Regions from separate parts of the Homo sapiens genome. Here all the other regions are reported to be linked to region 3. Evidence: microRNA targets listed by miRTarBase, many of them from high-throughput screens and not tested one by one. Region 3 holds a microRNA gene; each other region holds the end of a gene's coding sequence.
What was found. Region 3 holds the annotated microRNA hsa-miR-4666a-5p (AUACAUGUCAGAUUGUAUGCC, at 1,746-1,766, shown strand). A microRNA usually pairs through its seed, bases 2 to 8, with sites in the 3' UTR of a target mRNA and lowers its output. Matches are read on the target gene's strand: a 7mer-m8 pairs with bases 2 to 8, a 7mer-A1 pairs with bases 2 to 7 and ends in A, and an 8mer does both.

Region 1: miRTarBase lists SHLD2 as a target of hsa-miR-4666a-5p. Seed matches in the 3' UTR shown: 7mer-m8 at 3,166-3,172 and 7mer-A1 at 3,123-3,129.
Region 2: the mRNA of FAM98B is a reported target of hsa-miR-4666a-5p. Seed matches in the 3' UTR shown: 7mer-m8 at 2,254-2,260.
Region 4: the mRNA of DDX4 is a reported target of hsa-miR-4666a-5p. The part of its 3' UTR that is shown has no 7-base or 8-base seed match.
Region 5: the mRNA of GDPD1 is a reported target of hsa-miR-4666a-5p. Seed matches in the 3' UTR shown: 7mer-m8 at 2,219-2,225.
Region 6: miRTarBase lists SEPHS1 as a target of hsa-miR-4666a-5p. Seed matches in the 3' UTR shown: 8mer at 2,144-2,151.
Region 7: the mRNA of MRPL17 is a reported target of hsa-miR-4666a-5p. The part of its 3' UTR that is shown has no 7-base or 8-base seed match.

What each region holds. Positions count from the first base shown.
Region 1 is chr10:87,190,412-87,194,474 of GRCh38, reverse strand. SHLD2 (shieldin complex subunit 2) reads right to left here. Exons shown (of 10, transcript NM_001330112.2): 10 at 3,010-3,991. The coding sequence ends at 3,792. LOC105378410 (a long non-coding RNA gene) reads left to right here. Exons shown (of 2, transcript XR_001747528.2): 1 at 1-1,793. Among named protein-coding and RNA genes, the nearest start is that of NUTM2A, 33 kb to the left of the region's middle.
Region 2 is chr15:38,484,330-38,488,398 of GRCh38, reverse strand. FAM98B (family with sequence similarity 98 member B) reads right to left here. Exons shown (of 8, transcript NM_173611.4): 8 at 689-4,069. The coding sequence ends at 3,740. It overlaps RASGRP1 (RAS guanyl releasing protein 1), which reads left to right. Exons shown (of 17, transcript NM_005739.4): 17 at 1-296. Among named protein-coding and RNA genes, the nearest start is that of FAM98B, 32 kb to the right of the region's middle.
Region 3 is chr1:228,460,338-228,464,406 of GRCh38, forward strand. MIR4666A (microRNA 4666a) reads left to right here and starts at 1,737; the gene lies at 1,737-1,815. It also overlaps the pseudogene H2BC27P.
Region 4 is chr5:55,816,041-55,820,099 of GRCh38, forward strand. It overlaps DDX4 (DEAD-box helicase 4), which reads left to right. Exons shown (of 22, transcript NM_024415.3): 22 at 423-1,117. The coding sequence ends at 500. Among named protein-coding and RNA genes, the nearest start is that of IL31RA, 33 kb to the right of the region's middle.
Region 5 is chr17:59,273,017-59,277,085 of GRCh38, reverse strand. GDPD1 (glycerophosphodiester phosphodiesterase domain containing 1) reads right to left here. Exons shown (of 10, transcript NM_182569.4): 10 at 1,116-3,435. The coding sequence ends at 3,313. Among named protein-coding and RNA genes, the nearest start is that of GDPD1, 55 kb to the right of the region's middle.
Region 6 is chr10:13,315,565-13,319,633 of GRCh38, forward strand. SEPHS1 (selenophosphate synthetase 1) reads right to left here. Exons shown (of 9, transcript NM_012247.5): 9 at 1,864-3,792. The coding sequence ends at 3,578. Among named protein-coding and RNA genes, the nearest start is that of PHYH, 18 kb to the left of the region's middle.
Region 7 is chr11:6,678,389-6,682,454 of GRCh38, reverse strand. It overlaps MRPL17 (mitochondrial ribosomal protein L17), which reads left to right. Exons shown (of 3, transcript NM_022061.4): 3 at 53-2,070. The coding sequence ends at 337. Among named protein-coding and RNA genes, the nearest start is that of MRPL17, 2.9 kb to the left of the region's middle.

The sequences.
Region 1 (4,063 bases), not on the chromosome of region 3:
AAGCTCTCAGTGTGAATCATGTTCCATCAATGAAACACACACATGTGCAATATGGAAGATGAGTGAAATCCAGGCTATCTTCCTGAAGCTACTGTTCCTGGCAAGTGTAGCTGTGGGGACTGAGTTTTGGGCAGCAGCAACTAACTCCCAGCTTCCATGTGCTTGAGAGTCAGTTGCCAGGATGGCAGCAGCTGCATCCTCAGTCTAAGATGGCAGCCAATGGTGATGTTTTCATGAATCCACCGTTCACGTGGCAGCCTCCTGGAGCTCAGACTGATGCCTGCTCCTCCAGCCTTCCAATACCTTTGCAAACACCTGAATTCCACATTAATCTCTCTCTGTTTAGAATTCCCAGAGTGGCTTCGGTTTCCTGGGCTGAACCCTGCCTGGTAACTCCATTTTAACAGGCTTCTAGATCTTTCCTCAAAAACTGTAAAGCTGATGATGGTTTTGAAAAAAATCACGATTTCTTAACAACGTGGAAGCAGAGAGGTCACCTTTAGCAAATGTATGCCTTAAGTGGGTAGAATTCACTTCATAATAACAAATCAGGTTCAAGACCTCCAAAGACATAATGACAATTAATTGGCAAACCTCATCCCCTCTCACACATTTCTACCCTGTTGACATTAAATGAAGGGCCAGAATTAAGCTACTGATAAAGACGAACACTTTATTCTAATTGTTCTATGATTCATGACCTGTGTTCCAACACCTAGAAACCCATCAGGATACAAATATATCACTTAAAATAAGACACATAGGGATGGTTAGTTTTTCTGTCTCATTCTATATTGTTCTGAGAAATTACAGATATTTTCTTCTAAGAAAGGCATGATCAACTATTCAAGTTTTGCTGAATCTAAGGTAATGTCAGAATACTCTTAAACACCTTACGGCCTCAGATCCCAGTAGTTTAGAATTCTAGGGATGATGTAAATTTATAATCACTGTGAAAATGTTATCCTATCAAAACTCTGTAGAAACATCTATGCTTTTGCAATAACAGCGTAAAAGACCTCTTCTGATGAGAGAGACAGAGAGAGAGAGAGAGAGGGAGAGAGAAAGAAAAAAGAAAGAAAGATAAATTAGGGAGTTGGGGTAACCAGGTAATTTAGGCCAATGGATTCAACTGTGCCTTAAGCTGGTACTACCCTCATTTATGTGAGTCAATCAAGTCCCCCTTTTTTGCTCAAGCTACTCTGAGTTGGGTTTTTATCACTTGCAACCAAGAGTCACGACTAACAAACCCATCCTACTGTTACCTCTTTTGCCTTGGCTCTGTATTCCACACAGATTTAATCCTGGCGCTGATATAATTTTGTTTAAATATTTCTTCACCAGCTTGCCTGTGAACTTACAGAAGGCAGACATTTGTGTCTTTGCATTCCCAGTACCTAGCACATGGTAGACATTCAGCGAACGTCTGCAGGGTGGATCATGCACCCAATGTTGTCAACTCATTTGATGATCAGCCCCCTTTCCCCCAACCAAAAAAAAAAGATGTAAAATGAAACAGCACAGATCTTACTAGTGGGGAGAAAGGTGAATGCCTCTAACGCTTTTAGAAAAAGGATACCTTTGGGGAAACTAAGTGACTAACAAATAAAAATGGTTCTCTAAAAATAGGAGAGCTGTCCCTGCAAGCTGAACTATCAGAAGATGAAGAATGAGGTCTCCCTGAAATGCCCACCATAAGACTGCCAGATATGGGACTGCTGGATGACACTCTGGCTACCCCACTGAGTTTTATGAAAACATAACAGAATAAAGACACTTACTTGTCAACTCAGGTAAAGAATACACACAGAAGGTGTCTTAGTCCGTTCTGGGTGCTATAACAAAATAACAGACTGGGCAATTTATAAGTAACAGAAACTTATTTTTTACAGTTTGAAGGCTGGGATGATCAAGGTGCCAGAAAATTGAGAATCTAGTGAGGGCTTGCTCTCTGCTTCAAAGATGACACCTTCTGGCTGTATCCTGTGGCAGAAGGGGACAAAGAAGCTCCCTCGGGCCACTTCCGTAAGGGCACTGATCCCATTCACAAGGGCAAAGCCCTCATGACCTAATCACCTCCCAGATGCCCCACTTCTGAATGCCATCAGAGATGAGGTTTCAACGTAAGAATTTTGGGAGGACACATTCAGACCATAGCAGGAGCAATGGGCTGATCCTGATCCCACTTAAATAGCTCATAACTTCTGTAGATAGCTCAGATTCCTCAGGATTGGAGGAAACAGTTCCCAACCTAAATAAGGGCTCCTGGAAATATGTGTTAATGAATGAAATACATACCAACAACTGTGAAGAGATGTTGGTGTGATCTGTTGACTCACCTGAAATGGTTTAAAGATTTCTTCCCAATAGGATGTGAAGAGCCATCTGTTCCTGGGGATTATGTTCTGGTTGATGTAGGGATTAGGTCTCCACTTGAGGACAAAGTGGGGAAGGGCACACTTAAGCGAACAGCTCTCTTGGTTGGCCTATATTGACTGGGCAGATTTTATATCAGAATTCCAAATATCCGCCTAGTGTGGTTATAGTTGAGAGAGCACAGATTAGAAGGTGTCAACTACAGGCTCAAGTTTCATCACCCATTCAACGAATCATTGAAGGGAGCCAATGATTTTGTTTGAATTCCAGTCTCTCTAGATACAAAATGGAGTCAATTCTTTCTGTACCCACCTTATTAGTTGCTAGACAAAACTTTGGCAATCATTTGCTCTAATTCCCTTATCTCCCCCACAAAGAAACTCATCAGTTAAAGCCTTGTTCTTACCTTTCTTGGTCACAGAACCCTCTGAGGATTTGTTGAAAGCTATGGATCCTTCTCCACAGAAACATGCAGTTGTGTGTGTGTGCTCCCACAAAGTCATTTTGGCATATTATTTTTGAAAGAATCACAAAACTCTTGTGGTTCATTCTTAGGGAAGCCAAGTTAAAAAACAACCACCACCTCTGAACCAAAGGAATTTTTAAAAACATACACAGAGTAAAAGAAGCTTGTTCATGTCATCATGAATTTATTTTCAGGCAATATGATAATCTATTAACACTCAGCATACTCTGAACTTACAGAATAAGTACCACGCCATACTTCCTCATTAATGACTATCATTTTACATGAGCTTCTTCCACAATCACAATGAGAGAACAGATTGCTACATGTTTGCTGGTAAATGCATTCAGTAAGGCACTCAAATCCTAGACACGAACTAAGCACAGAACGCTCTTCCCTGCTTTAATAAATTGAAACATGATCTCATTTCCTTCATTTTCAATACTTTTTATAGAAAGACACGCTTGTCTTGAACTTGTCTAAACATAGGTTTATATAAACTAATCCATTATCATTATAGTTATAATCAAGGAAATGATTTCACATTGACGGTTTTTTAGGTAGGGATAAGCGAAAGCACTGCAGCAGTTTCTGAGGGAATGTCTTCTCTGTGGTTCCCCATACTTAGTACAATGCCTGGAATGTAGCAGGGACTAAATACAGTGAACAAATGGGCAAACCTTTAATTCCCAGGGATCTGCTACATATTGCCTTGACTGGTAGATCATTTCTCCAGGAGAAAGTAAGAAACCAAAAGACAAAAACAATCTTTTTAAACCTCACAGGATTTTCTTAGAAAAAAGTTTTAATTTATATATCTAGTGCAATTCTCTTTGTAAAATATATTTCATAAAAAATCCAAAGCAAAAGCCCTGTCATTCATTTATTTCAAAAGACAAATCATTTCAGTACTTCTTCCTTGAAATGCCTGCAATTTCTTCCTCTGGCCTCAGAGACGGGCATTGGCTCCATGCTTTACAATGTCAGGATAAAAATCCAGGAGGGAGAAATCTTGTTGTAATGGATAGCTGTTTTCATCTAACACAAAAAGGCTCTGAATCTTTAATACACAAGGTTCTGCGCTGACTGCCAACAAGGAGTGGAACAGGTCTGCCACGACCATCCCATAGGTGATCTCTGAGGAAGGAACTGCAAAAGACAAAAACACAGAGCTCCCAAGATCGCTGCTAGCTTGACAGGAGCACACACATTGAATGGTTT
Region 2 (4,069 bases), not on the chromosome of region 3:
AAAAAGGCTTTGGCTTATCAAGCCTAGTGTAAATTTCTGCATCTCACACGACTTTAGTTTGGCCAGGTATTTATCTGCCAAAACAAGGACAAATCTTGTTGTATTAACAGCAGGGTCACTTCTCATTTTCTTTGCTGACTTACCTTTTTACTGACCGTTGTGAATTTCTGTCTCAAAATGTATAATATAGAAATGCAAGAAAAAAACAAATGTACAGATTGTAAAGTTTTTTGATACCTAATGTAAGTTTTCTTTGTGTAATATTTATATGATAAAAGACATTAGGATCCCTACAACACAAATGTCTTGTGTTTCTTCTGCTTCGTGACCCCGTAAACACTTTACCTGAATTTTTCCTATATTCCACAGCTAAGACCACTGCCCTATTCTATTAATCAAATTGAGTTTTCCTGGAAGGAAAGGCAAAGCAGCTATTCAGTTTAAAATTTTCTACATCTTTTTACAACACGAAGAAGTAACACTACAGAAATATTCAATCTCTTTCCATCTTATTCATAACTTACAGTGGTCCCCAAATATTAAGTCTATAAATACTTAACATTAAAGGAGACAGACTTGAGGTTGTCCCTTCTCTGTGGCTTTTAATTCCACAGTTTCATCTAAGCAAACTAGCATGTAAAGAAGAAATCCTTTGAAGCTATGGATAAAATTGGTAACGACAGCTCAATCCAGGTTACAGACCTACTCAGGGCAATTTATTTGTGGTCATGATTATTTAGAATGATCAGACATAGCCACAATTTTCCCTTAATCCCCAGCTAATTTTTGTTTAACCACACCAATGAAGAAAGAGGAAAAATTTCAGTCACTCAAATTCCTCTGTGGAATGCATTCTGGAACATTTAGATGGGGGTGTATTTATCATTTGGGCAATTCATAATACTTCATACAAAGTAATAAAGTCACACTGACAGCCTGATCCTGAAGGCAAGATTAAACTGCCTGCTCACCTTCCCCAATTTTCATCCCCACATTTCTCTAACCTGTGCTCCTTCCAAGGTATAGATAGTATCACTGCTCAGGACATTTTTCTGGTCACAAATTTTTTTTAGGTTGTCATGCCTCCTCTTGTCACAGATACAGGTAATAAGATGTTTTTTATTTAAAATGTTTTCCTTTTTCTGTTTAATGAGGCAAGGTTTCCCTGATCTGCAAAACAAAAGTAAGTTCAAAGAAAACCCTTGTTTCCCTTTTGATGTGTGCTTATGAGTAATAGTGTGGTGATTATGTTATAGACAGAATACATGCTCTTTATACGGTCGAGAGGAAAGATGACTACTTTAGGCAGAAACTCCCAGTAAGATCATGTCTATATTTGCTATTAGGTACCAGGCTGGACAAAAAGAGAAGAAAAAAGGGGAAGGACAATGAGGTAATTAAAAAATGAAATTGAGAACCAGGCAAAAAAGAATGAAAAGGAGGTATCAAAAAAAGTGTTGGATTTTAGGAAGCAGTGGAGTGCCATTCATCATACTCCATGTCGTATTGCACTCAATTTATAAAACATTTTCACACTATGGCCTTTCCCATTAAGGCCCCAAATTTCCTTCCTGCTATTCCAGATACTGCTCAGCAAACTGTTCTACAAAAGAAATTTTTACTGAACAAAGATTATCAGGAAAATCCCACCTTACAGGAAAGAGTAAAATATTAAGAGTCTACCTGATTCAGCTTTTCATTCAATTAAGGTTTATAGGAATGTGTACATAGGAGTGGTTTCAGCTCCAACACGATTCCAGGAGCAAGTGCTAAACTTTGATAGGAAATAAGTGATTGTAGTGAATAACCCAAGCAGCACTCCTATAAAGGTACAAAGAAATCTTATGGAAAATCTAATGAAACTGATAAACTATTGTTTCTGCCATATTTACCATAAACCTTTAGTGGTAAAAAAGTTGAAAGTAGTTGTAAATCTCCTTCATCAGCAACTAATGCTACCAAAAAAGAAGTGAGGCAGAAATGTAAAGGTTTTAAAGAAGATTTTTAAACAACTCTTGAAATATTTTACTCAAGTAGTTTTTTTCTTAAAAGTTTTTAAAAATTATTTTTCAGAGTTCATAGCTACTGATAAAGGTATTTTCTTAATTATGGAAAGCCTTTTTTTCAGCTATCACAAATGAAATTACATCTTTTCATTAAATATAAACACACAAAAAATAAATTTACAAATAACCAAAAAATTTTATATTTTCCTACCTTGAACACATTTCTTCAAAGGGTTAGCTTGAAAAATACATGTCTAAGATTACAGAATATTCAATAGTTACTTTTAGGGTTTTAACATTATTTTAGATTTTACCACAGAGTTTACCAAAAAAATAACAACAAAAAAACCTGCTAAACATCAAATACCACTTGTCCACTGGGAACAATTCAGCTTTCTATCAGTTGAGTTGGTTAGATCACATTAAGTTGTTATGTATAGGTATTGACCAGAAGCCTACAATGAGATACAGATTTTACACTAAGATTGAAAAAATTTATGGTACCAGCTCTTTTTCTCTTAACTTTCTACACTAAGAGAAAAATACATTACTTGGCCTACATCTTAAAGCATTCAAAATAGGCCCTCTGTAAGTTTTTAACAAATTGTATTTGTATTTAGGTCTTTAAGAAACAACCTGAGATGATGGTAAGTGTCTCATTCCTCATTTGACAAATGAGGACAAATCACTCCTTGAGAACTAAGGTCATTTCAATCCATAGCACCCCTGACCTAGTGCCATGATTCAAATTCACAACTCTTGATAGCTAAGACTTTGACTGCTCCAACTAGCAAATCACATATAGCCATTCCCTAACTTTGTGTTTCCCAAATCTAGCTGTGAATCAGAATTACCACAGGATGCCTTAGCCCTACCCTTGATCTACTGAAGCAGAAAATTACTGCCTTAATTCTGTGTGATACAGGTCAGCCTGCCTTTTAATATTTGGATATCTAAAGTGAGAGCATAAATGATGAAGAGACCAGTTTATAGGACTATTTCTCACACCGTCATGTAAAGTTGGTATGTGTCTTTGCTCCATTAAAGTATTTCTGACCTCAATCTTAAACTTTGCTTTGTCAAACAAAATCATGCTGATTTCAAATCCAATTAGAAAATAAGTATGTACAGTAAAAAGTAAACTTGGGCTTCAATTAATGAAACTTTAACAGAAACATGGCTAGAGAGGAATCTCCTCCTATAAGAGAAAAAAATGATTCACAACAACTGCCTACTAAATACAACTGGAAGTGCCTTTCCCTATTTTGTAAAATCGAATGAAAAACCCACAAAACACATCCACAGCAATACAGGTGAGGCAAGGGTCTATATTCCTTTCTATTACAGGTGGGGTCTTTTATATGTCTCAAACCTGAACAAAATACAGGTAACAATCTAAATTCAATCATGACAATAAAATACTTTCCATTTTCCAAGTCTGATGGTAATAAATATTTACATTTTAAAAAATAATTTTTGTTCTTTTTTTTGTTTTTTAAAAAGACACAACATGCTCAAGGGTACACAGAATATGGAAAAAGTCATCACTTCATTTGAGAGATCAACTGGTAATAAAAAACAATGTTCTTACATATTAACCAATTCAAGAGTGGTATCACCAGGGAGTCTAACATGGTGTTTACTTCAAAGATGATATTCAAGTATGTTATTTGGAACACTATTTCTAATGTATCTATAAAGAAGCAAGCACTGCTATCTAATTTTTATAGTTTTTAGTATCTTCTATATCCACCTCCTCCACCACCACCACCACCACCACCACCACCTCCTCCATATGGATCTCCATAGCCTCTTCCACCATAGCCCCCTCTTCCACCATAACCCCCTCTTCCACCATAATCTCCCCTGCCTTGGAAACCTCCTCTACCACCTCCTCCTCCTCCCCCCCACCCTCCTCCCCCTCCCCCACCACCTCCCCAACCTCCTCCTCCACCCCCCCAGCCACCTCTCCCACCCCCACCCCCACCACCTCCTCTACCACCACCTCCACCACCACCACCCCAACCACCCCTTCCACCGCCGCCTTCTTGTCTCTTTTGCCA
Region 3 (4,069 bases):
CAAGTCATTTCTCCAAAGGGAACCCGTCGCGTGCCTGGGATGGGGAAAGAAAGGTCACCGTGAACATCCTCGACCAAAACGGCTTTGTCCCCTATTCCCCACCTTTTTTTTCCTGCGTGATTCCTCTACAAGAATCTTTGAGAACCTCGCATGTTTTAAAGCTATCTAAAATATTTTTATTTTCAATTAAAATAGTTGCAAAGATACAAATACCAACGTGGAACTTTTTAAAAATCAAAATTCTCACATCAGTCTCAAGGTGCCTTTTGGAATATCAATATGATAGTATAATCAATTCATAAAATACATGACCAAATTTTTCTTTGTCAATGCGATGTTTCAGATGATTTTTTTCCTCCTGAATGCCTATTTCCATTCTCCATTTGCCTTACAATTTCACCCTACCATAATATATCTATTGTATGTTTAATAGTGTTTTGTCTATTGTTCTCTGCAAAAAAGTCTACATTGAAATTTAAGCATACCTCTGGGTAGTCTCTCACTGTTAAGAAAAATCATCTCGACAGTACACAATTGTTCAAAACATAAATAATTTGATGTTATCAAACAGATAAACTTTTAGTGAAACTGACTCTTAATGAGCTGGATGGTGCACCCACTCTCTTCTCTCCTCTCCTTTCCACCTCAATGACTGCACACATGCAGTGTTCATATTGTTACAGTGTTAGCACAGCATGGGATCATTTCCATATGGTTACAATGCTAGCAGTGCACGGGGTCATTTCCATTCTGTTTTGTTTTGATATATGCTCCAAAAAAAATTTACAAAAAATACACAGGAATGACAATTTTGTCATAGGCACTTTATTCAATTCTTTGCATCCCTAGTTATAATCCAAATATTAAACAGTGATCCATCATCAAAAGTAAGTGGGACTTGTCAACACCCTTAGTACTGTCAAGAAATATAGGATTTGTATGAAAAGCTGTTGAATCCAGTCCTCTCCACTATGAAACAGGTGCCCAATGACTGGAACATCCAAGCCCTCGGCCTCCTACCAGCATGGATTGGAAGTCAATACCTTAAACATTTGCAGCTGTGAAACTACTCTCACAGACCCATATAGTTCTCCACCTTAATGAACTTAAAACATAGGTTTAATAAAGTGAAACCAGTCTCCAGTAGAGAGAGTGAATGATTGTGTTAGCACAAGGCAACAACACTGGTTAGTGCCAGAGATCAAATCAAGGCACAAGATGAACATTTCATGACATTTTCCAAGTGTAATTCTCTAAGAAGGCATTTTGTGATGGATAATGTCAAACGTCAGTCAATTCATGTCTCAGTCCTTCTGATTCCCCTGGCACAAACTTGAAGTAGAAACAGGCTGTCTTTTCCTGCTACATTAGCACCCCCAGGCCCAGAATGAATGGGATTTGTCCGTCTCTCCTAGGACAGGGATCTGTTAAGGGAGAGGCAAAGAAGGTAAAACAGGATCCTTGCTACTAAGATTTTATAATGGAGAAAATTCAGAGCAATCGTGTCCAGAACCCATTTCTCTAATTATAGTGTTACAACAGAGAAAGACAAATGTTAATGATAAATGAAGGCAGTGCACATCAAATATGTGAGAATCCACAGAGACTAAGGGAATTAGGACTCACTCAACAAAATGGAAGCATTTTCTGGGTTGGAGAGACATGCCAAGATTCTTAAACTAAGCCAAATTTTTAAACTAAGCTTCATCTCACCTATCTGAGATGGGTGAGTGACAATCACTTAAATACATGTCAGATTGTATGCCTACAAAATCCCTCCAGACTGGCATACAATCTGACATGTATTTAAGAGATTGCCCCTCACCCATCTCAGATGGAAATTTCAAGTCAGATTTGCTAATTATTATGCAGTAAATAAAATAATTTGGAAGGAATCATCTCCAATTAAACCAACTTTGATTAAAAAACAAAAAATAACAAATGTTGGTGAGAACGCAGGGAAAGGGGATGCTTGTACACTGCTGGTAAGAATGTAAATCAGTACAGCCACTATAGAGACAAATATGGGCATTCTTTAAAAAACTAAAAACAGACTTACCATATGATCCAGCAACCCCATTGCTGGGTATATATCCAAAAGAAAGGAAATCAGTATATCAAAGAGATGTCTGCGGTCTCATGTTCATTGCAGCACTATTTATAATAGCCAAGATAGAAAGTCAACCTTAGTGCCCATCAGTAGATATATGGATAAAGAATATGTGGTACATTTACACATTCGAATACTATTTGGCCATTAAAAAAAATGAAATCCCGTCATCAGCAACATGGATGGAACTGGAGGACATTATGTTAAGTAAAACAAATCAGGCACAGAAAGACAAATACTGCATGATCTCACTCATACGTGGGAGCTAAGAACATGCATCTCATGGAGGTAGAAAGTTGATTGCTGGTTACCAGAAGCTGGGAAGAGTGGTGGGGAAAGGAGGAGATGAAGTTGATTAATGGGTACAAAAATATGCTTAGAAGAAATGGTAACATCTAGTATTGGTTAGAAAAGTAGGGTGACTGTAGTTAACAATAATTAGTTGTATTGCTGGAGGAGAGGAATTGGAATGATCTCGACCTAAAGAGGGTGTGAATATGATGACGGATGTCCCAGTTGCCCTGGTTTGATTGTTAAGCCTATGCGTATATCAAAATATTTGTACCCCCCAAATATGTACAACTATTACGTACTACTAATAAAAAAGCATATTGCTCTGAAAAAGTGCTCTAAAAAATAAAGCCTATTTACAAAAAGAATTTGGAGGAAAGAAAACTCCCTTTAAGAAGAAACTAACCCAAGAAAATGGATTTACTTTATGAGGCCAGAGAGGTTAAATGTTGATAAATGCGTGGCTGTCATTGTGTTGGGAGTGTGCAGTGGGAACTGAGCCTGGGTAGAGTGCATCTTCTACCAGTGGGAACTGAGCCTGGAAACCGAATTCTAATTCCAGGCAACGTTTTTGCTTAGAGGGTGGGTAGCTCTCAGGTATTCGTGGTTGGGGTGTCACCGGTATGGGGTATTTTTAGGGGGAGGACAGCCTGGGCCCCAGTCAGGCCTGCATGCCTTAGTTTTTAATGTGTCATCCAGAGATCATACTTATTTTTCCTATGATTTGCTGGAGTTTTTTTTAAAAAGCACTATATTTGCATTATTCAAAATAATCTTTCACTGTGTAATATGCGTACACACACACACACACACATTTTGGGGGTAAAATACGAGAATCCCTTAATTGGGGAAATTTTAGCTGAGTGATAAGGAGATCTGTGAGCCTGCTGTTTTGATGTTTCAAGCAGGAAGGCGTGGCATAAAGAGCTGCTTAGGCGCAACGCTGCTGAAATGGTTTTGGCTAGAAGCTCACAGTGTCTAGTTGTGGCTAAGGAGGGAGGAAAGGGGCGGGAGAAGAACGGACCCAAGCGCCTCCGCCCAGACGGCGCGATAACCCCCTCACCTCCAACCCCGGACCTCAGTGAGCACGTCCTCCAGTCTCAGCCGCCAGGAGGCACTGGGGGCGGGGACGTGGCACAAGATCTTCCCGGAGGTGACCCACGCTCCTCGCGCGCAGGGCGTAAGCCACACACAGATCTTTGGATGGGATCCATGGCGCAATCGCCTGTACTGCCCCCTCTCTGACTTTGCCTGTGGCCAACACAAGACGAACGCAGCCTTTCTAAGGGAAATATGCCGTTACAAACAAGAAGCCTAATTTTGTCTCTAAGACTTGCGCCCCCACGGCTCAGTCTACTTTCCCTCATTACTCCAATTGAATCACAGGTCACAACCAGACCAGGTGGCACGCTCCTTTTGGAGCTTGGAGGTGGCTCTGAAAAGAGCCTTTGGGTTCGGGGCGCCGGGACGCACCTCACTTGGAGCTGGTGTACTTGGTGACAGCCTTAGTGCCCTCGGACACGGCGTGCTTGGCCAGCTCGCCGGGCAGCAGCAGGCGCACGGCCGTCTGCACTTCGCGGGACGTGATGGTGGAGCGCTTGTTTGTAGTGCGCCAGGCGGGAGGCCTCGCTGGCGATGCGCTCGAAGATGTCATTGACGAAGGAGTTC
Region 4 (4,059 bases), not on the chromosome of region 3:
CTCCCAAAGTGCTGAGATTACAGGCGTGAGCCACTGCGCCCAGCCACGAGGCTACAAGTCTTTTCTGGTATGTCAGGTTTTTATAGGCTGAACACCGCCTTTATTCAGAAACAATGAGCATGTTAATTAAATATTTATGCTGATTCATTGAGTGTAGTGCATTAAGTTTTCCCCACTTGTCAAAACTATTGACTTAAAAAATATTTTTCTTGAAACATTTTGTGCAATTTAGATTTCCTCATTTGACAGGAGCCTTTTTTCAGGTGAATCAGATTTAGTGAGAATAAAGTTCTTTGATTATTTGGGGAAGACATGGTAGATACTTTGAGTCCTTGCTCTCAGTCTGAGTGATGTAACTTTAAAGCTGTCATAAAATTAAATGTTTGTTTGTTTCTTTTTTTTTTTTTTTAAATAATTACCAGGGCAAGAGCACTTTGAACACAGCTGGGTTTTCTTCTTCACAAGCTCCCAATCCAGTAGATGATGAGTCATGGGATTAAAGCCAAAACATCCTTCAAGTCTGTGGTTTTGATGCAGAGAAGAAAATAGTTTTGATTTTTGAGTTTTTAACAGAAGTATAAAACTTAACATTCTCATAGCTCCTGTCCTTGTATTCTCACTCCTACACTTAAAAAAAAAATCCTTACTGACTAGTTATGTGAGATGCTAAAACTTACAACATTGCAGTTACTGATACAAATGGTGTTAACTGGGAATATTAAAGCATTCTAAATGTCTTTCTTATTTCTGGTATATTCTTTAGGGGGCTTAGACATGTTTAATGTTTAAATGCCAAGTCTTACTATAGTGTTTATTGATCTTATAAAACAAGCAAATAGGATATGATACACTTTTGGTTAAAAATTACTGGGTCTCATTTTTACTTGAGTCTTTAAAACAGTAGTGTGTCACTATAATGTGATAATCTTTAAGAGAAAGTAGAATACTTAAGCCTTTCAAAGTGATTTTGATTTTTAGATCATCAGATGTATGATGAAAATGGTTAAATGTTTGTGATGGGAGCTCTGTACTCAATGGCATAACAATGTTTATTTTTATAATATACAATCTTTCCTTGAAATAAAGGATGAAACACTTTTCCCTTAAGTTTTCCATCAGCACTTTAAATTTTTCTTTGTTGCATATCCTAGCCCAAACTCCTATATTTTTGAAACTGTTTTTTTGTGTCTTGCGTAACCAGTGCAGTGAACAAAGTCTTACATAAATTAAATATTAATGTATAAACATTACTGCACAGATGTGGCAATGAAAATCAATCTTAGAACTCAAACCCGTTTATCAACAAAAAACAATGCTGCTTACTCTTTCCATAAGTTTTTGATTCATATTTTAAGATTGATGAAAGAACCCTGTCTTTCTTCATTTTCCATTATATATCTTGAACTTACTATGCCTAGAATAATGAAGTTCTTTTTTTTTTTGAGACGGAGTCTTGCTCTTGTTGCTAAGGCTGGAGTGTAATGGCGTGATCTTGGCTCACTGCAACCTCTGCCTCCCGGGTTCAAGCAGTTCTCCTGCCTCAGCCTCTCCCGAGTAGCTGGGATTACAGACACGCGCCACAATGCCCAGCTAATTTTTAGTAGAGACGGGTTTCACTATGTTGGCCAGCCTGGTCTCGAACTCCTGACCTCGTGATCCGCCCGCCTCCACCTCTCAAAGTGCTGGGATTACACGCGTGAGCCACCGCACCCAGCCCGAAGTTATTAATTAATTGTTAAATGAACGAACCCAAATATTTAAGACCCAGTGAGGTGTAAATACTGGGGAGACAAAAATGATTGGTATTAAGTGTTACTGTTCACCTAAACAATCCAAAGTGACATGTCCCTGATGTATATCTTGTTATAGGAATTTAGTTAATAAATGAGGCATCACATATGAAAAAGGAAGGCATATCAACAGATAGTGTTAGAATAACTGGGTAGATGCCTACCTCATGCCATATTTAAAATTAACTTCATGTGAATTATAAAATATTAAAGCTAATAGTTAAATATTAACCCTTTGAAGGGTTGACTTTAAGCTAAGGAACAGAAATCAAAAAAGAAACAACAGATTTGATCACTCAAGGAAAGATTAGTTGCCTACATAAAAAATAGTGAAAAGTAGACAAGGAAAAATATTACTGTGACCACAGTGGTTATCAGTGTTCTTTATATGTGGATATACTAATAGAAGAATACAAAGAACATAGAAACTCAAAAAGGGCACCAGCATGGCACATGTATACATATGTAACAAACCTGCATGTTGTGCACATGTACTCTAGAACTTCGAGTATAATAATAAAAAGAAAAAATGTTGACAACAAGAAAAACTCAAAAAGGGAAGTTCAATTAATAAAAATATGGGACATATTTCACTTTTCTTCTGTTATCTCACTTCTGGGAAAGGCTAAATGAATGAAGGTGTTTGGATTGTTATTTGTAATATCTGTATGTCTTAATTTTCTAGTTTCGTTTAGGAAGAGTATAGGCCAGTCTTGTCTCATTTTTTTCATTGCTTTTTTTTTTTTTAACAGATTGCTCCCTCTGAACTGATTCCTTTTAAGCTTTTGCTTGATTTGTCAGATTACCATAGTAGCATTACTGAATCAAATATAAAAAAGGAAAGGAAATGTATCATACATCTACCACCATTACAGATGAACTGTAAATGTCCCTATGTTTAATTACTCTCCTCATTTCTAGGTATAGGTTTGAATCATCTCTTTAAAAATTATCAAAGTAACATGCATAAATTAGAAAAGAAAATGCCATAGAAGCATTTATAATAGAAAGCAATATTTTTCTGCCCCTCCCCTTCCAAATTGCCATTCCACATCCAACAATCAGCTATTATTAACAATTTCTGTTCACTGCCATCATATACAGGTTGAGTATCCCTTATCTGAAATGCTCGGGACCAGAAATGTTTCAGATATCAGATTTTTTTTTGGATTTTGGAATATTTGCATAATATATAATGAGAGATCTTGGAGATGGGACCCAAGCCTAAACATGAAATTCATTTGTTTCATTATACCTCATATACAACTTGAAGATAAGTTTTGATATTTTAAGTAATTTTGTGCATGAAACAAAGTTTGTGTACCTTGAGCTGTCTGAAAACTAAGGTGTCACTATCTTAGTCACATGTGGACAATCTGAGGCATCACATTGGTGCTCAAGGTTTCAGGTTTAGGAGCATTTGGGATTTTGAATTTTTGGATTAGGGATGCTCAACCTGTATTTTTATGTCACCAACCAGAACGTCTGTTGACTTTGATATATGAAGATTTAACTCACATCTCTGACTCGCCGTAGAAGTATACCTGTGAGATGATTTTAAAGGCACCTTTTCCTTTCCTCTATTTGTATGTCATAACATCTGTAAACTGCACATTTACATTTCCCAAGTTAACATTTGCATTTTCTATAACCATAAAGTCTCCCTTATATACACAGATTCCAGAATTGAAAATCAAAAGCATGTGTTTATATAAATATTGTTCACTGGATGGGCCAATTCACACAGTCTTGATTGCCTCACCTTTACTATCTTCCTAATTTTATGACTTTTGTGTCTGCAGGGAGAATGGGAAGTGTCAGGGTCAAATGAAAACTGCCCAAAGCCATTCCACATACCAGCTTGCTTTGAATTTGGATCACACAATTTTTGAGCAATTTGTTTACCCTGTTTGTAGTGTTTTTTTGTTTTGAAGGAGACAGATCATGCATTTTTCATATTACCTTCCCAGGTTTGATGTTAATTTTCTTAAAAGATCCCAAAAGATATTGGTTGTCTTCACTTTTATGATGAATGCGACTTGTGTGTGATACTCAGGGTGCTTTGAAAATTGTTTTTTTTTTTTTTCTTGGTCCCTAGGAGTGTTTTTTGTATTTGATAATTTTTTTCCCAAGTTTTCTCTGTTCTCTATTTTTGGAGCTTCTATTAGATTCCAGAACTGAATTCTCTATTGTATCTTTCCTGTTTTTTTCATCTTTTATATTCTAGTATATATTTTTTACTTTCAACCGTTTTATTAGCAATTGTTTT
Region 5 (4,069 bases), not on the chromosome of region 3:
TGCAGAATCTCTTTTGATTTTTTTTTTTCCAATGGATTCTTTCTGGGGTCACCATTTTGCATAACTCTAGGCAAAATCATTCAGGCTGTGTTATATATTAATGGTTTCCCATACTGGAGCATACTATGATTTATTATTTATGTTCTGTTTTCTCAACCCATCACAGCCATCCTTTCTTCACAGTGTGGCTATGAGATGACTCCCTGTAGTCCCTCCCCACTCCTCAATTTCTAGAACTGAAATGAGAGCTTTAAGAAATTCTGAGGCCGGGCGCAGTGGCTCGTGCCTGTAATCCCAGCACTTTGGGAGGCCAAGTCGGGCAGATTGCTTGAGCCATGGGCAACATGGAGCAACCCTGTCTCTACAAAAAAATACAAAAATTAGCAGGGTGTGGTGGTGTACTCCTGTACTGGCAGCTACTCAGGAGGCTGAGGTAGGAGTATCACTGGAGCCAGGGAGGTTGGGGCTACAGTGAGTGGAGACTGAGCCACTGCACTCCAGCCTGGGTGGCAGAGCAAGACCCTGTCTCAAAAAACAAACAAACAAACAAACAAAAAACTTGATGCCCCTATCAAAAAGCAGAATTCAGATGTTAACTGAATGATGACCAACTTCCTTGTTAGAAAATACTATGTTTTTATTAAGAAAATTAAAGTCACCTTGACTATAAAATCACCAAACTTTTGAAACATTATTTTCTAAACATCTTTACCTTGTTGGGTACTTTTTCTTCTACTGGTTTACATAAAATATAAGCTGGCCCTTTAATATGATCTGTTCTGAATCATAACAAAGCAAAATTTAGAAAGGAGAAATAACAAAAAGAATTCTATCAAAGATGATCAAAATGATCCCTAGCAACTATAACCATAAGTTACAATAAGTGAAATTGAAAATGACTGATTCAGTGGATTACCCTCCCAAGTTATTTGTTCAAATGCCAAGAAGTAACTTTCTTACCATAAAAGTGTTTCCATATTTTCTTTTCTTTACTAGAGAGAAATCTCAGGTGCATTTATTATTCATATGATTAAAGCATCACCTCATTAAATTCTGCAAAAAAATCTATAAAGTATATTTGGAATTAAAACTGAAAAAGAATGAAGAATGCTTACTTTGTTCTTGGAAAACTTTATTTCAGTTTAAACAACAAAGCAAATGATATTTATGTCATCCAGGGACAGATAGGAGAGTACAGTCATTCTTCATAGCAGTTTCATTGCCAAACTCCAAATGAGAGATGTAATCTAGGTAAAAGACACTTATTATTCCAGATTACATTTACCTCACAATCTGAGATCATGAAAATTAGTCAAATATATTAGAAACAGATGTACACGAAGTCACCTCAGATAAACTGAGAAAGTGATGTCTAATGCTTTGGAAAATTCTGTTTCTACTTAATACTCAGATTAATGAGTTTTAAAGATCAGGAACATCTTTATGGGGGTTCATAAATGTTAGGAACAATGATATGCACTTTCATCAGTTTAATTATTAGGATTCAAGATGGTATTTAAAATCTAGATGTAGGCTCAGTTAGTCAGTGCCAAAAATGGAAATCTTACATTTTTTTAGAGGAAACACAAAAATATGACTATTTGGATCTTGTCTTAATTTACAACTGGTAAGTTCCTTTTTAATGCTTAAAAAAATGGACATGGTAGAATTGCTACACACCTGAAAAAGGTCTCAAATAGAATGTTCCATTAACAACAACAACTCAGAAATCTAATTCACTCTACAGATTTTATTTCTGATCAACTAATCAACTTTTATTTTCTTGAGCCTGGCTGCTGCTGATTATGTATAACTTGCCAAATAACTACACATCACTGATTTCCAAGCTTTTTTCCGTTTTATTTTTCCTCTTTAACTAAGGTACACCTAGAAATAACAAGACACTACCAAATAGCTGCAATGGCCTTCAAAATTTCTTTTACTGGCCGGGTGCAGTGGTTCAAACCTGTAATCCCAGCACTTTGAGAGGCCGAGGTGGGTGGATCACCTGAGGTCAGGAGTTCGAGACCAGTCTGGCCAACGTGGCAAAACCCTGTCTCTACTAAAAATACAAAAATTAGCTGGGCATGGTAGCAGGCACCTGTAATCCCAGGTACTCGGGAGGCAGAGGCAGGAGAATTGCTGGAACCTGGGAGGCAGAGGTTGCAGTGAGCCAAGATCGCACCACTGCACTCCGGCCTCGGCGACAGAGCAAGACTACATGTCAAAAAAAAAAAAAAAATCTTTTACTAATTGATTGTATTCCAGTGAAGACTATTGCCAATTTTTTTTCTTTTTTTCTTTTTTTGAGACGGAGTCTTGCTCTGTAGCCCAGGCTGGAGTGCAGTGGCGCGATCTCGGCTCACTGCAAGCTCCGCCTCCCGGGTTCACGCCATTCTCCTGACTCAGCCTCCCGAGTAGCTGGGACTAAGGTGCCCACCACCACGCCCAGCTAATTTTTTGTATTTTTAGTAGAGACGGGGTTTCACCATGTTAGCCAGGATGGTCTCGATCTCCTGACCTCGTGATCCGCCCGCCTCGGCCTCCCATTTTTTTTTTTTTTTTTTTTTTTTGAGACGGAGTCTCACTCTGTCTCCCAGGCTGGAGTGCAGTGGTGCTATCTTGGCTCACTACAGCCTCTGCCTCCCGGGTTCAAGCAATTCTTGTGCCTCAGCCTTAAGAGCTGCTGGGATGACAGACGTGTACCACCACGCATGGTTAATTTTTGTATTTTTGGTAGAGATGGGGTTTTGCCATGTTGGCCAGGCTGGTCTTTAACTCCTGACTTCAGATGATCCGCCTGTCTCAGCCTCCCAAAGTGCTGGGATTACAGGCATGAGCCACCACACTCAGCCCAATGCCAAATGTATCCAATAGTCTTTGATTCCAGAATTACTTATGATAGAACACTGCATCATCTACAGAAATCTTGATCAATAACCTAGATAACCTAGTTTCTAGGTTATTGATCAAGATTTCTGTAGATGATGTAGTATGTACATTTCTGTGTATGTTATTAATCAAGATTTCTGTATAAGATCTAGAAACAAAAATGCACATTAAGAAATTAAAACTTACATCTCATAACCAATTATCTTTCTAAACAATTTACAAACATAAAATATACAATATTATTTAAAATAAATATACATATAATATATAGTTTCTACATTCTCATACAGGCTTAAAAATGAGGTAATAAAAACTGATTAAACCTTTTACCATTCTGGAAATGGCTTAGGGAAATGATCATGAAATATTTTTTTCTTAGGTCTTCATTTTTTCCTTCAATACTTCTAAGTACCTCTTTTTCTATGCTGAAAAGTTATGTAAAAAATCCCTAAGCTTTGTTGGATAGTCTGTCATCACCCCAGTTGCTCCCAAATCAAAAGCTCTTTTGTATTCTTGTTCTTCATTTAATACCCAAATATACACCTGAAAATTAGAAGTGTGAGAAGTATGAGAAGAAATGTTAAAATAGAAAATTATTTTTATAACAGTATTTATCCACTACAGTCTTGGTACATTTAGAAATAACCTTTTAAAGCTATCATTTAAATAAATCATTAGATCCTTTTTTAAAATTCCACTTTGTTCCTTACAGGAATGAGGAGTGTTAAAAAAAAATTCATGGTGCTTGTTAAATATACAGACTCCTGGCTGAGCGCGGTGGCTCACGCCTGTAATTCCAGCACTTTGGGAGGCCAAGGCAGGCAGATCACCTGAGGTCCGGAGTTCGAGATCAGCCTGGCCAACATGGCAAAACCCAGTCTCTACTAAAAATACAAAAATTAGCCAGGTATGGTGGTGCATGCCTATAATCCCAGCTACTTAGGAGGCTGAGGCATGAGAATTGCTTGAACCTGGGAGGTGGAGGTTGCAGTGAGTCAAGACTGCACCACTGCACTCCAGCCTGGGTGACAGAGTGAGACTCCATCTCAAAAAAAAAAAAGAAAAAAGTAAAAAAAGAAATATACATACATATATTTATATATATATACACACACACAAACACTGTCCCACCCCTCTGGCATCAGCTATTCTGTACATAAGAGGAATCTAGATCCAG
Region 6 (4,069 bases), not on the chromosome of region 3:
TATTGCTTATACAATATTTCAATTTTTCTTGGACTGAAACACAATAAATACCTCAACACAGCCTGTGCAAATAAGCAGCTTCAATATTCCTTCAGATTATTCCTAGTGCCTGAATGACTGACTCCACCATGATCCAGCTGCCTCAGGTTGTATTCACTAATTCTATGCATTCTAACAGACTGTATTTTTGGATGCAACTATACTATATGATTTACAGAAAACAAATCAGTATACCAAGATAAATACACTTCAGTGTGAAGTTTTAAAGTGCTACCAGAAAGTCAAATCGACTACTTACTCTCCACTCACTTTTTAAATTTTATTTTTTGTAGAGACGAGGTCTCACTATGTTGCTTAGGCTGGTCTCGAACTCCTGTGCTCAAGTGATCCTCCTGTCTCAGCTTCCCAAAGTGCTAGGATTATAGACGTGAGCCACCATGTCTGGCCTGTCCACTGACTTTTAAAATGTTCTACATAGATTTTGCCAAGAACTCCAATATTCAGTGACAATCATTTGAGTCTTCGTGGAGCTTTCAAAATACAGGTCTTTCTGCTGCCTTGCTGGGCCGTAGCTCAGATGTGGGAAGTAAACAGAATGGTCAAGATTTGGTCGGAATGGTCGGTAAGAGAATGGTCGAGGAAAAAATTCCTGCAAAATATGTTGCAAAAGGCTGGGCATGGTGGCTCACACCTGTGATCCCAGCACTTTGGGAGGCCAAGGCAGGCGGATCGTTTGAGCTCAGTTCGAGACCAACATGGCAAAACCCTGTCTCTACTAAAAATACAAAAATCAGTCAGGCTTGGTGGCATGCGCCTGTAATCCCAGCTACTCGGGAGGCTGAGGCGGGAGAATCACTGGAACCTGGGAGACAGAGGTTGCAGTGAGCTGAGATCGCACCACTGCACTCCAGCCTGGCTGATAGAGAGACTCCGCCTCAAAAAAAAAAAAAAAAAAAAAGTTGCAAAACCAGGTCCTCTTACTTTCCCTGCCTTCCTCTGCAACATTCCTTTTGAGATCAGTTTTTTTTTTAAATTATACTTTAAGTTTTAGGGTACATGTGCACAACGTGCAGGTTTGTTACATATGTATACATGTGCCATGTTGGTGTGCTGCACCCATGGTTCTGAAACTTTTTTGGCCATAGCCCCATAGGGTCCTTATTTAAGATATTCCCAAAGTCCCACACCCCAGAAATTCTGATTCTGTGAATCTGGAAAATCAGGGGCAGGAATGTTGCCTTCTAACACCCCGGGTGATTCTAACACAGGTGAATCTGGGCCACTATACAATACTGGTTTTTGTTTGCTTGTTGAGACTTGAGTCTGTTTCTTGAGACTGAGTCTCTGTCGCCCAAGCTGGAGTGCAGTGGTGTGATGGCAGGTTGCTCACTGCAACTTCTATCTCCCGGCTTCAAGCGATTCTTGTGCCTCAGCCTACCCAGTAGCTGGGAATACAGGTGTGCGCCACCAAACCCAGCTAATTTTTGTATTTTTAGTAAAGACAGGATTTCACCATGTTGGCAAGTCTGGTCTTGAACTCTGGACCTCTGGTCATCTGCCCACCTCGGCCTCCCACAGTGCTGATATTACAGGTGTGAGCCACCATGCCCAGCCAACACTGCTTTAAATACAAATTCTTCCTCTTGGGATCATAAGACTTACACGGACCTCTAAGTACCCAACATTTTCTCTTTATAAATATCAATCTTCACAAATATTATTTCCTTAAGTACATACTCCACTTAGCTCCCTCCTCTCAATAGGCCTGCCACTGAGGAAAACACCAGCTCTCACGGCACAGGCTACACTGAAGTTCAGTCATCGTTATTTAAAAAAAAAAAAAAAAAAAAGCTCAACAGTAGGTTTATCTCACTAGAGGTTTCCAACACACTTTATTTTGCAGACCACTGGTTTGTAGCTTTTGAGGACCAACATCTCTATCAATTCCTATAAAATGTCCAATCACTTTCAGTTCCGTAGCAGGCTCTTCCATACTGCACACCATGCTTATGGCTGGAGGTCCAGTTACACATGCATGAAGGCTGCCCTGCCCACTGGTTCCTGGAGGAGGGCGCGTCCGAGTTAAAGCCTCTTCCAGGAGCTTGAACTTCCCAGGGGTCATTTCCTTTGGCAAGAAGTCAGTTTACATGTGCAGCTTTGGTGCCTGTGAGCAGAAAGCACCAGAAATGGGCAGGATGTGCTGCTTTTTCTCTCACGAAGATGGGCACTTGAGGATCCAGCGCCCTTGTGCTTAATGACAGGAATCCCTCCTCATTGCTTAGTAGGTTAAAATATAAGGAAGCCTCCACTTTACATAACACAGAGAACACCTTTTTAGATTGCCTATTTATTCTAGAACTACAAAATTTAATTCAAGAAAATATAGGTCCCATGAAAGACTTAAAAGTTTTATAAAACTAAAATCTAGTTTTTCCCGATAAATTGTACTTTAGGCAAAACCCTCCCAACGCTTCTAAAATAATACTAAAAGGGGCATCTGATTATACAAGAGCAATTTAAAAAATTAAATATTTATTTGAATAACAAGTTTAAGTTCGAGCTGCAATGTTGGCAATGCAGGTTTTTAACACAGATCACAAAAAGCGTGCACAAAAAAGTACTGGCGCAAAGGACAAAATAATGCTAAGAATTAGGCCAAACAGCTGCTGATTTTAAGAAAACAAAAGGCCTGAAATCACTGTACAAAATAGAAAATGTATTAAACACTACCATCCACAGAACAGTCTTTACTATTGATTATATTTAAAAATTATTTGTGTAATTATATATTGAATTGTAAATGAGTATTATACATGAACCTCCATTCGGAAGGCAATTCCTTGTAGCACTATAGAACATCTAATAACATTGCAAAAAGTATCCTTTTTTGCTATCGATAAAACAGTTAATGGTATTACTGTAAATATCAGGAAGGCTACAAAAAAAGAAATAAGATTTCTTTTTTGTCTTCAAAGTGTTTTCCATGCAATGAAGCACTTGCTGTGTTGAACTGAATGCACTACTGGAGAATGTTCTGGGTCCGAGATGCTCTTGAGAGACAAGACTAGGCTTTTCAAATCAAACACTCAAAGGAATCATGCAACCCTCTTATGACTGGGATACCGTCATGTGCCACTTACCAATGCTGTCTCTCCAGAAAACCATTCAAGACGCTTAAAAAAAAAAATCAGACTTATATGATAAATATACATAAAATGAAGACACCAACTGCTATTTGACACGACTACGGGTAATGCCTGTGCTATGTGAAAGCACCTTTAAAAAGCCTATGCGGCAAGAGATAAGTGTCTAAAGATTCAAAATGAATCAACAGTATTGGATAACAATATAATTCTCAACTCAGAAGCTGCCTCAAGATTAGGTGCATCTTCAGTTAATGTAACAGGAAAAAAAGGCAATGGATTTTATTTTATTAATTGTATCCACTTACAAACCGACCTAAGGTCACCCCGATGTGTAGACACAATGAGATTTTTGTTGTTTATAGTCTTTAATTGAAGTGATAAGGGAAATAGATCTATTTAAAAACAAAACCAAACAGCTATTTCTGTCTAGATTAAGAGGTGGCCCCGGGTGTGGGATTCACATTTTGAGTGGCCACTTGTGGTGCGACCTCGATGATCCGGGGTTTGTCTATGATTCTGGCTGTGCGGTTGCCCTTCTCTACAATCCCAATAATCCATGCTTGGTGGCCTTCACCATATTTGGGGGACTTTATCTCTGCACAGAACCGAGCTGCTTGCTCACGTGGTAAACAGATCAGAAGGCCGCCTGGCAAAAGAAAACAAGAATGACTGTTAGTGTTGACATGACAGCAGCTTCTCTGCCTCTGCTGCTTCTGCAGAGATCCAACTTCCATCAACAACTTGCTGCCACCTATATGCAAGTAGCTCTTCCCATTCAACTAAGCAGCTTTTTTTTGAGACAGGGTCTCACTCTGTGGCCCAAGCTGGAGTGCAGTGGTACAATCACAGCTCACTGCAGCCTCAATGTCCTGGCTCAGGTGACCCTCCCACTTCAGCTTTCCCAGTAGCTGTGATTACAAGTG
Region 7 (4,066 bases), not on the chromosome of region 3:
GCCTCTGCAGTTTTGCCTGACTCTGCTGTCTCTTGGATAATTCTCCCTCTAGGAGAAGGATTTGATCCCAAAGCTGTTTCAAGTACTGGCCCCTCGGTACAAAGATCAAACTGGGGGCTACACAAGAATGCTGCAGATCCCAAATCGGAGTTTGGATCGGGCCAAGATGGCAGTGATCGAGTATAAAGGGAATTGCCTCCCACCCCTGCCTCTGCCTCGCAGAGACAGCCACCTTACACTCCTAAACCAGCTGCTGCAGGGTTTGCGGCAGGACCTCAGGCAAAGCCAGGAAGCAAGCAACCACAGCTCCCACACAGCTCAAACACCAGGGATTTAACTGGATCTGAAGAGTCTGCAGCCCTTAATCAGTACCCATGATCACAGGCCTTTGGAGCACTTTTACTCTCTGAGAAGAACTGGAGCTAGAGATGTAAAATGGACAGTCTTGATGGGGTTGAGAACCTTCTGGGGAGCCAGATGACCCTCTCTTTGCACAATAGATAAAAGTCTTTATATGAATATATATAAATTTATTTATTTTTTCCTTCCTGTGGGATTTCTGGAGAATGAGAATTATCCAAATGCTCAGTCTACCTGAGATAGTAAATTCATGGCTTATGCTTCTGGTCCTTAAATTTGGGTTATTTTTGGTTAGTGCAATTTTGTTTTTCTTAATGCCAGTTTACATGGGAATGCATCCTATAATTCCAAATGTTGCCAGAGGTGGTTGTGTTTTGACATCTGGTCTCCTAGAGATGAGTGCTTGGGATTTCTTAGAGAAAGATTACTTCCTGACAGGGGTAGGGGAGTGACAATCTGCAAGTGAAACTTCCTTAAACAATCTAGTACCCTGCGAACCTTCAGGGGATACTGCAATCAGTCCTCTGTTTTGAGGCAGGATCACACATTACCTTAATGTGTTCCCTTCAACCCCCTGAATGGGCCTGGGAGGAGAGGACCCAAGAACTCAGATGTTCCACCAGTTTGGCCAAAGGGGTGGAGACATTCAGCAGAGGATGTTGGGCTCCAGGATAAGCTCCTTCCTCTTGGTGAGGGGAAGGGGTAAGAAAGAGGGTCTATGCGAGAGAAGGATTAGGAAATTAAACCTCCTAGGAATTTCCTGGAAGTTTTTATTGTTGTCAAATCTGGCCTCTCTGGGAACCCAGAAAAGGGAAATCCGGCTTCAGAATGTGAGAAGCTGGGAGCCCCTTTCTTGGCACAGCCAGGCTGCCGTTCCCTTGGGTTCAGAGGCTTTAGTAGGGTAGTAGTTATGGAAGGACTTAGAAAGGAGCCATCAGTCTTGGTCCAAACACTTGATAGCAGTGCCTGATAATTGCCATATCCCCAGTAAAGTGGGTAGAAGAGATTTTATCTTAGGCTCTATCTTCTGAGTGTATTTGGCCCACTGAACCCATCCACTGTCTGAGATAATAAGTAAGAGTAAGGGTAAAGGGATCACTGGTGTAGCAGACATGGCTTCAGTGACAGAACGAACTATTCTGGTGCTAATTTAGCTGTAGCTGCCTTAGTCTGATACTCATCTACTCCCAACAGAGCTCTTTATCTCTTTTTCTCTACTATGGTTTGTTCTTCACACTATAGCCAGAAAGCTCTTATATTTTAAATGAAATATAGTAGACACTCAAAACATTTATGAAATAAAGCTACAACTCTGCTTCTGCTAAAAAATATACCCCTCTTCTGTCTTAGCATGAATATCCACCCTAGCTAGGTATCTAGGAGTCATACCTAACTTCTAGAGAAACCACTTTCCTTAAAACCACATCTTTATTTTAAATAGATGGATTGTGGCTGGGCTCCTGTAGCTTTTCCTCTTAGACCCCAGAAATATATCTCCCTTTGGGACTTCCAACAGTTCCCTACATGCTTTTTGAGCATCTGCTAGTTCCCAGCATCAATTTAGGCAGAAGGGATACAATATCCACTGTTCATCTAATAGAGACTAGAGATAAGAAACAACCTGTACCATCAATGAGCTCACAATAACAGGCCACTGCCACTACCACAGTGGCCTCAAGGGACACTGCTTCCCCTTTAATGTTTTGGTCCAAATAAAAGTACATGAATCCTAAAACATTTGCTAAAGGCTCAGGGATAACACAAGGAAAGTAACAGCATCAAGAATTTTACTGCCGGGTGCGGTGGCTCACGCCTGTAATCCCCACACTTTGGGAGGCCAAGGCAGGCAGATCATAAGGTCAGGAGATCAAGACCATCCTGGCTAACACGGTGAAACCCCGTCTCCACTAAAAATACAAAAAGTTAGCTGGGCGTGGTTGCGGGCACCTATAGTCCCAGCTACTCAGGAGGCTGAGGCAGGAGAATGGCGTGAACCTGGGAGGCGGAGCTTGCAGTGAGCTGAGATTGTGCCACTGCACTCCAGCCTGGGCAACAGAGCGAGACTCTGTCTCAAAAAAAAAGAATTTTACTAATCTGGCTTATAAATAACTTCTTCAACTAGTGGACTGCTCCCCCCAAGTCCATCTAGGCACCTCTTTAATGCGTTCCAAACCCAAGAGCACCACTCTCAAAGGTTCCCACCGTCTTGGGCGCCAGTTCTTTACAGTAAGGTAGACAAAGTAATGATCACTCCTTTCTCAAAAGGTAACAAGTTTAGGCTTTACAGTTAATACACTGTAAGCCTGATATCTTGGGGAGATGACTAGAAAAGTCAGAGATTATTTCCTTACCCTCATTGACACTGAAATTAACAAGTCATGTTTATTTCCGTAATGTTTCTCAAATCTGCAGTCAACTTGCTCCCTAGTAAGAAATCCAAGATACCTCTATCCTGGGTTACTTCAACAACCTCCTAACTTACCTCCCTCTACACTTTGGCTGTACTGACGGGAATCTGATCATCTTAATTCCCTGGTGATGATCTCCAGTTGCTTATTTCCTATGGGATCCTTATCATGACTCCCCTCCTTGTTCAGGCATCTACTCATCACTCCAACTACTTCCTTTGCCTCTAAATGCTATGCTCTAGAAGCATAAAAGTTCCTATTTTGGATGTTTCCCTGTGCACAGCTCCCCTGTCCACAACCTTTTGTTAAAGCAGTCCCTGCCGTGCAGACAGCCTTCTCTCTTTTACCTATGTAACTTACACACAAACTTTTGGTATCACCTAGGTGGCTCCCCGCCCATCCCCACAGCTAAATTCATGACTTCGTCAGCTGAGGTGCTCTATGTTTCGATAATACACTGAATTTGCCACATTGCATTACAGTTTCCTACAGTAGATTAGTTCCTGAATGGGTTGTAGTGGACAGGCCTAAACTAAGTTAAGGCAGTGAGAATCTAAGCTCTATTCTGCCTAGATGAATAAATTGGCATGTTATTCTAAGTGCCACTGGGGAACTGGCTTTAGGCAGAAGATAACACTGAGAGTGGCAGATTAGAACAACTAAAACTCTCAGTAAACTATCGCAAGAACAAAAAACCAAACACCGCATATTCTCACTCATAGGTGGGAATTGAACAATGAGATCACATGGACACAGGAAGGGGAATATCACACTCTGGGGACTGTTGTGGGGTGGGGGGAGAGGGGAGGGATAGCATTGGGAGATATACCTAATGCTAGATGACGAGTTAGTGGGTGCAGCGCACCAGCACGGCACATGTATACACATGTAACTAACCTGCACAATGTGCACATGTACCCTAAAACTTAAAGTATAAAAAAAAAAAAAAAAAAAAAAAAACAACTAAAACTACAGCACCAAGAGCTCCCAAACTGGAATCCTAGTTACGTTGGAATAATAATCTTTTTTAGTGATTATTCCCATTTGGATCTGAATTTTCTGTTAATTACTACTAAAAGTAATCTGATAATTTGTGTAACACTGAACCTTTAAACAAGTGCTTCTCAAAAATTGTGACTGTGACCTACAGGTCAAAAAACATTTTACATCAGAACAGATTATCCATAAACATAAATGATTGAAACAAAATCTTCATAAAATGTTATTTACCTTTACAAATATGATCTACCCTCATATTTTCTACTTGTTCACCTTTTATATGCTGGCCCCAATTCACT